Homo sapiens: one gene and its partner. The protein of the gene in region 2 binds, or shares a complex with, the protein of the main gene of each other region. Each region holds a gene or a part of one and is shown on either strand. Other genes may lie near its edges.

Region 1 (3,748 bases), on a different chromosome or scaffold from region 2:
TTCATCTTATTGATACTTTTCTGTTAACTTTTACCCTTCTAGACTTCACCAAGAAATCATACTAAGTAAGAGAATTGGCCACCTTCTCTTTGGCTTTTAACTGGCTTCTGAAAAGTAGCTGATTATAGGGCCAGTAAGCTCCTTTTACCAGTATTAAAGTAATTCATTTGCTGTTATACTTTGAGAAAAGTATTTTTATGAATTTTTTATAAAATTCTCAGAAAATTCTCATTATAGAAGTAATGAAGCTTATAAGTAATTCAGACAGAAATAGCATAACTTGGAAGTTTTCCATAATCCGTGGGGGAATATATCTATATTCCATAGATATAATTGCTATTACTAGTTTAGTGTCTGGTTATTTTTCAAAACCCCAACTGTACCAGTGTTCTTTTTTTTACATCATTCTAAAATGAGCATAAGATAAAATATTTGAATCTTGGATATATCACTTTAAACAAAAATTAGTGGCTAAGTCTACCCAAAGTAGAGTCCTAGTGCACTGGTAGCAGTTTTTGTGCCTTCTTGCAATACGTTTCACCTGGCTTGGGAAGAAATGCCGATGATTAAGCTTCCAGTTATTTTGGACAGAATTTTTTGTTTGAGTCTTTTAAAGTTCTTTTCAGGGAACCAAATCAATTTGGAAATAAAGAGGGGAAAAATCAAGTAAGCTCTGTAAAGTTACTTTGTTTCTGCAGTCAGGTTTTTCAGAGTCCCATATTTTGAAAATTTTCTTTGGGGAGGGGTTGTTAAGATATATTGAACTATTACTACTGTTGCAAAGAATTGATGTGTTGTGCTCATAGAGGAAATTAGTGAGGTAAATGGTCAGTCAATTTTCAGGCATCACACTTTTCTAATTCCCTTTTAGGAGAAAAGTAATGCTGGTGCTTCCTAGTACAAGATTAGTGGAAACAGCTATTTCTTATACTGGAGTTTTGCAAACAGCATGTTTAAATTGTGCTTACTCAGCCATTTAGCAGTCAATATTTTACAGATTGTTTAAGATTCCCTTTCAGCCAGTTTTTATCTCACACTTAAGGTAGGGTTTCTTTTTTTCAGGTTCTCAGGAATTCTTCCGCCAAAGGTGAATTCTGCAGGTACACATAATTGCAACAGAACTTAACACAAATTTTGCCGCAGAATTCGAGAGGCCCCTGCTTCTAAGTTTATGTAGCTAAATGAATTCTTAGTTTTGCACATCTTTTTTAAAAATGCAACCTAAAGGTTTCTCAACATTGTGTTATTAAATGGAAAATACCTTGCCCCCAAATTTTATATGCAAACTCCAAAACACCAATACCATTCCTAAGGCAGAAGGACTAGTTAGTTATTTTATTATAGCATTCAACCTGACAAGTTTTATAACTGGAGAGAGAACACAGACAGAAGTATTTATCAGATTAAGTTGTTTATATTAATCTCAGAACTAGCTGTTTCCTGGCCTAGGTTATGGTTTTTTCCCCCATTCTTTTGGACTCATTTATGTGCTTAGCTACATAAACTCAAAAGTCGGATTAAAATAGCTGTATTTTTGTGTAAACTGTTCATACCTGTAAGGCCGTTCTTTATAAGTGTGCAATTAGTGAATATGAATACTTTATTCCACAGAAGAAGACGTTCGTCAGCATCCTTGTCTGGGAGTAGCTCATCATCCTCTTCATCTCGTTCACGGTCACCACCAAAGAAGCCTCCCAAGAGGACATCCAGCCCCCCTCGGAAAACTCGTAGGTTATCTCCTTCAGCAAGTCCTCCAAGGCGAAGGCACAGGCCATCACCTCCTGCAACTCCACCACCCAAAACTCGGCATTCCCCTACACCCCAGCAGTCAAACCGTACAAGAAAAAGTCGTGTTTCTGTGTCTCCAGGGAGAACTTCAGGTAAAGGTAAAAATCAAACACATATGAAACATGGTCTCTCTTTCTTTGGCTACAAAGCGTAGTCAGTTATTGCCCCCTGCTCACTCTCAAAGTATGAAATAGCTAGATAATATTTGTATCTAATACTCTCTGTAGGTTTACTTATAAGCCTACCTCTTTCCTGCTTTAAAATCTTGGGGCTTTTTTATGTGTAAAAGGGTTTTGTTTTTAGCAATGCCCTGTGGCATTGCGCAGGTGGAGAAATCTTTTACCAGCCGTGGGCTGTTTGAGTTGGGGTAACATATCAAAGTTTGCGTTGGCATGATAAGGGATCATTTTATTACTATGAGACCAGTTAACTTTTTTTTCTCCTGAAGATTTTTGGTTTGATATCTTAAATAAGAGGACTTCATATTCTCTTTTAGTTCTTTCTTGGTCGCATTGCGCTCCCAAGCAAAGGACATGGTGTCCTCTTAAAAGCTGATTTGTTTTTTTAATTTAGGTTCTAGGCAGGGTTCTTCTGAGTGTTGTCCTTGCTTTATTCTGCAGATTGATTTCTGAGGAATTTATGATCTGTGAACCTGCCAGGCAAGTAGAATGCTGTGTTAGTCTGAGTGAAGGTTGTGGTCTATTGGGGTTTGTTCTGTGAGCATTAAATACGCATGGAAAAAACTGTAGTGTCCATTTGAACCAGGCTCTCTGGAGCTTAGGGCTGGAATGATATACAGCCTAAAAGGTGAGTAGTAAGGGATGGGGAGGATCTTAAAAGCTGCTAAAGCAATTGAGTTTTAAGGAGCAATCTGTAGGTTAACACACGCTGGGGTTATTATGATCATATTGAAAATTTCAGGTTAGAGCCAGGTGTGGTGGCATGAGCCTGTGGTCCCAGCTACTCAGAAGGCTAAGGCAGGAAGATCACTTGATCCCAGAAGTTCAAGGCTGGCCTCAGCCCCATAGCGAGATCCTGACTCTTAAAAAAAGAGAGAGAAAAAATTTCAGGTTAGAAACAAAGAAATGGGGATGGGCAAAATTTTCATTATACATTTTAATGAGCTTGATGAGACCAGCATTGCTAATTATTCACCCTGTTGCCTTATCTCCCCACTCCCCAAGGCTGCAATGTGGTGATACCTAGAAAGGCAAATTTTGCTTTCCTTTTTTGTATCTGTGACAATGAGGCATAGATAAGCTGACAGAGTGAAAGGGTGACCAGCAGATTATGATAGTCTGTAAAAAGTAATGTTTTCTGAATTGTGACATTTTTATTGTAGTGATAGGTTCATTAAATAAGACATGGCCACTTTTGTTGGCCCCTTAGAGAAGCAGCTAGTGAAAGTAGAGAAGCCTGTAACTGTTCCAGGTTCAGTCCTCAGTTTGAGAGAGGGGCTTCGGGATCACTGTTTTCATAACCTCATGTACCATACTGCTTTTCAGCATTGGGAAAATTTCAGTCCATTTTCAGTTACCATGTCCAAATCTGATGCCCATGGCCCTGGCCTATTTTGTCTTTTCCTGTAAAGTTTGTACTTCTGAATATTTATTCTTTGTCTGGAGCCACAAAGCTCTCCAGGGAAAAAAACAAGTGTTTTTACCTGTTACTTTGCAAAAACACATCAAGTGATGATTTTTTTCTATTTATATCATATAGCCTAAGAGTTGCAAAAGTACCTGAACAGAGGGACCAATCCTTGTTAAAATAGGTTGATTGTTAAGAATTATTAGGTACTTTTAAAAAGCATCTGCACAGATGCTAATTTCTTGTGTTTTGGCATATACTTTTTGCAAACAAGACAAGAGTGGATATGTACATAGGAAAGAAGTAAGCCATGGTGAAAATAAGTATTTCTGTGGGTTTTGGGACAGGGCTTCCGTGTTCAAACAACCTACCC
Region 2 (3,748 bases):
GTGGGCACTGCATTGCTTGAAAAAGGAATTTTTGTTTGTTCTCAAAATTTTGTTTGCTTCAAACTATTTCCCACGGCCTAGATCTAAACTCCTGCAAGCTCTGGTGCCACTGAACTCTCTAAACTCTTTTTGTGCCATTCTCCACTTCACTGCAACGATCCTCCCACATCAGCCTTCCGTCTGGCTCCTTCCTGTTTTAAGGCCTTTGCCCATGCTGTGTCCCGGCTAAAATGCCTTTCTCATGATGGCCAAAACTGAAGTAACCCCCACCTTCCACTGCTGTCTCTCATCACCCCATTTACTTCCTTCTGAGCATCATCTTTTTTGTTTGCTAACCACCTGTCCCCCCTACTAGAATGTAAGCTCCTGAGGGGCAAAGACCTTTCCCTAAGCTGTTCACCATACTCCAGCATTTAGAGCAGTAGCTTGCATATACGGTACACGCGCAATAAATATCTACCCAGTGAATAACTCAATAGGTCTTAAGATCATAACAACTACAGAAGCCATAAGTTACAGACTGCAAGCCATCTCTGCTTCTCTTGATATGAAAACACTAAATATGAGTTATTTTTGTTTTTGAGACAGATTCTCGTTTTGTCACCCAGGCTGGAGTACAGTGGCCCAATCCCAGCTCACTGCAGCCTTGACCTCCCAGGCTTAAGCAATCCTCCCACCTCAGCCTCCTGAGTAGCTGGGACACCACGCCAGACTAATTTTTTTTTTTTTTTTTTTAAAGCAGAGATGGGGTTTTGTCATGTTGCCCAGGCTGGTCTTGAACTCCGGAACTCAAGTGATCTCCCTGCTTCGGCCTCACAAAGTGCTGAGATTAAAGGTGTGAGCCACCTCACCCGCCTGAAATTGCTTTTTTTTTTGAGACAGAGTCTCACTGTTGCCCAGGCTGGGGTGCGGTGGTGCCATCTTGGCTCACTACAACCTCTGCCTACCGGGTTCAAGCGATTCTCCTGCCTCAGCCTCCCAAGTAGCTGGGATTACAGGCGCCCACCACCATGCCCGGCTAATTTTTGTATTTTTAGTTAGAGATGGGGTTTCACCATGTTGGCCAGGCTGATCTTGAACTCCTGACCTCAGGTGATCCGCCCACCTCAGCCTCCCAAAGTGCTGGTGCTGGTATTACAGGTGTGTGCCACCGCGCCCGGCTACAAAACTGCTCTTTTTAAAACATATTTTTTTGAGACATGGTCTCACTCTGTCGCCCAGGCTGGAGTGCAGTAGCACAATCTCAGCTCACTTCGGCCTCTGCCTCCCAGACTCAAGCAATACCTCCTGCTTCAGTCTCCAGAGTAGCTGGGCCTACAGGTGCACACCACTGTGTGCGGCTTTTTTTTTTTTTTTTTTTTTTTTGAGACGGGGTCTCACTCTTGTCCCCGAGGCTGTGGTGCAGTGGCACGATCTCAGCTCACTGCAACATTTGCCTCCTGGGTTCAAGCTTCTCCTGCCTCAGGCTCACTAGTAGCTGGGATTACAGGCACTCTCCACCACGTCTAGCTAATTTTTGTACGAGACGGGGTTTCGCCATGTGGGCCAGGCTGGTCTCGAACTCATGACCTCAGGTGATCCGCCCGCCTTAGCTTCCCAAACTGCTGGGATTACAGGTGTGAGCCACCACGCCCGGCCCCAAGGACTCACTTCTAATTCACTTATCTCACCCTGGCCCATTTAGGCATCTAGGGAACGGGCCCCGCCCTTACCAATAGCAAACTCCACCAGGGTCTCATTCTCCTCCGACAGCGAATCGAGAAATAAATCCAGGACCTGCAGCTGCCGCAGATACTCGTAGTTGCTGGGGTCATAAGCGAAGTTGGCGAGGTTGGCGAGGACTTGCTCCTTGGCGTCTGCAACGGGAAAGCGGCACTGAAGCCAGGTCCGGGCGGCGGTCACAGCGGACCCTGCCACCTGATCCCACCGTGGCTCTCACCTTGGCTTTGGGTCTCCTGGAATTCCGTGACCAGCGCCTGCAGGTATCCCAGCCGCCCGACGTGGGGGTCCACCTTCGGCTTCTGGGCCATGGCCGCGGTGACGGAGGACCCCCAGGGACGGGCGGGAGGGTGGGAAAGGTGCAGGGGGAAAGCCGAGCGAGACCCTCACCCGCTCTCCACCTGTCTGGAGAGGGAAGAGGGGGTCGGCAAATGGGTTTCTTTCCTGGGTTCAGATTCTGCAGTAATTTGCAGCTGGAAATGGGATATGGGAGATGGGACGGGGTCTCAGAATCCTGTAGGAGTTGCGTTTGAAAATCGAAATTGGGGCGCGGGAGACAGGGAACCGTCTACTGGTTGGGGCTCGCGGAGGGGGCACTGGCGCACCGTCCCCGGCTCCTGGGCTCGGTTCCGGGCTCCCGGCGGAAGCCGCGCTGTCCCTACCCCCGAAGGGGCGGGGCCGTCGCCGAACTCCTTGGCGCGCGTGCGCGGCGCGCTTCTGGTTTTCTGGATGCCGAAGCTCTTTAGCCTGTGCTGGAACCAGCGGCGAGCGGCTTCGCTGAGGCAGGTGCAGGCGTGGGTGGGTGTACTGCGAGGAGCAGCCTGGCCTCCCGTATCCCATGTCCAGATGCAAATTACTGCAAAATCTGAACGCAAGAAAGAAACCCACTTGCCGCCCCCGCCAACAGATGGGCGAGTGAGGGCCTCGCTCGGCTTTCCCGCCCCACCTTTCCCACTCTCCCGCCGGTCCCCCGGGGTCCTCCGCCGTCCCGACATGGCCCAGAAGCCGAAAATGAGACACCCATGTCGGGTGGCTGGAATTCCGCCAGGAGCAACTCAGGAGCGCAGCAGAGTCTGGCAGCACCCATGTTGGAGGACGTCGAGGCAGAAGCACCTCCAGGGTCCCCACGGCTGGCGGGGGCGCGGCCCATCCTCCTTGACCAGGACGCCCCTTTGGAGCGCGGGCGTCAGCTCCTTACGCCCCCCATCAGTCCTTTGCCCCTTTTGCAAAAAGCCTAGCGACCCCGACCCGCCCTCCATCCCAGCCCCGAGGTGGGTCCGCCACCTCTGGACAGAAATCAAAGGGTACTGGGTCATGTCCTGGTGCTTTTTGTCAGCCGGGTGGATGGCGCGCGCCCGGGGCAGCACGGGGGAGCCCGAGGAGGAGCCTTGATTGTGGCGCTTTCGGGGCTTTCTGGATGCTGAAGCCCTTCGGCCGATTCCTTCTCGGAGATTATCAGGAAGCGGGTGTGTGATAGATTGCTCGTGGTTACAGGAAACAAAGCACCAGGGAAGGAGGTGGTCTAGCCACACTCCCATCGCATTTGACAACGTAGGGGTAGAGGTGGCTTAGGCTGTGAGTGTCCTGAGAGTGCAAAAGTTGTTAATCTAAATGGAGTCACTTGTGTTAAAAAACAGAACAAAAAAACCCGGACACAGCCCAAGAAACCCATGACAAGAGGGTTCTCGTGCATAAATACCTGATAATGAAAACTATCACAAAGACTCTGCAAAAACCACAACCTTGCACAAAGGGCGTCACAACCTTGCACAAAACATACTTTTGAATGGCCATCTGCCCAGCAACCGCTTGTCCAACCTTGAGCGGTCACCCTTGTTATTAATCCTTCTACCTAAGGATAAATATTTCAAAACAATTATGTAATCCTATTTTTTCCCTTAAAGCCTGTCTTCCTTTACCTCCCTGAATACCCATATAGTTTACTATGGCATGGATACTACCATTGCAATGCCCTATGCCCAAATAGATATCATTTTCTTTGAGAGAGCCTCTCTGTTATTTAGGCTGA

Evidence for each region. Proteins that work in one complex are often made in the same cells at the same time.
Region 1: ARMC7 (region 2) and SRRM1 share a complex: the UniProt entries of both Homo sapiens proteins name them as parts of the minor spliceosome.

Annotation. Positions count from the first base shown.
Region 1 is NC_000001.11:24,653,244-24,656,991, forward strand, and holds part of SRRM1 (serine/arginine repetitive matrix protein 1), read left to right. Parts: intron 1-1,062; coding exon of another isoform or gene 1,063-1,100; intron 1,101-1,611; coding exon 1,612-1,886; intron 1,887-2,408; coding exon of another isoform or gene 2,409-2,420; exon of another isoform or gene 2,421-2,447; intron 2,448-3,748. UniProt on the Homo sapiens protein: Part of pre- and post-splicing multiprotein mRNP complexes. As a component of the minor spliceosome, involved in the splicing of U12-type introns in pre-mRNAs. Involved in numerous pre-mRNA processing events.
Region 2 is NC_000017.11:75,108,571-75,112,318, reverse strand, and holds the start of ARMC7 (armadillo repeat-containing protein 7), read right to left. Parts: upstream 2,170-3,748; 5' UTR 2,031-2,169; coding exon 1,940-2,030; intron 1,857-1,939; coding exon 1,713-1,856; intron 1-1,712. Other genes in the region: SLC16A5 (monocarboxylate transporter 6), read right to left, coding at 2,170-2,584. UniProt on the Homo sapiens protein: As a component of the minor spliceosome, involved in the splicing of U12-type introns in pre-mRNAs.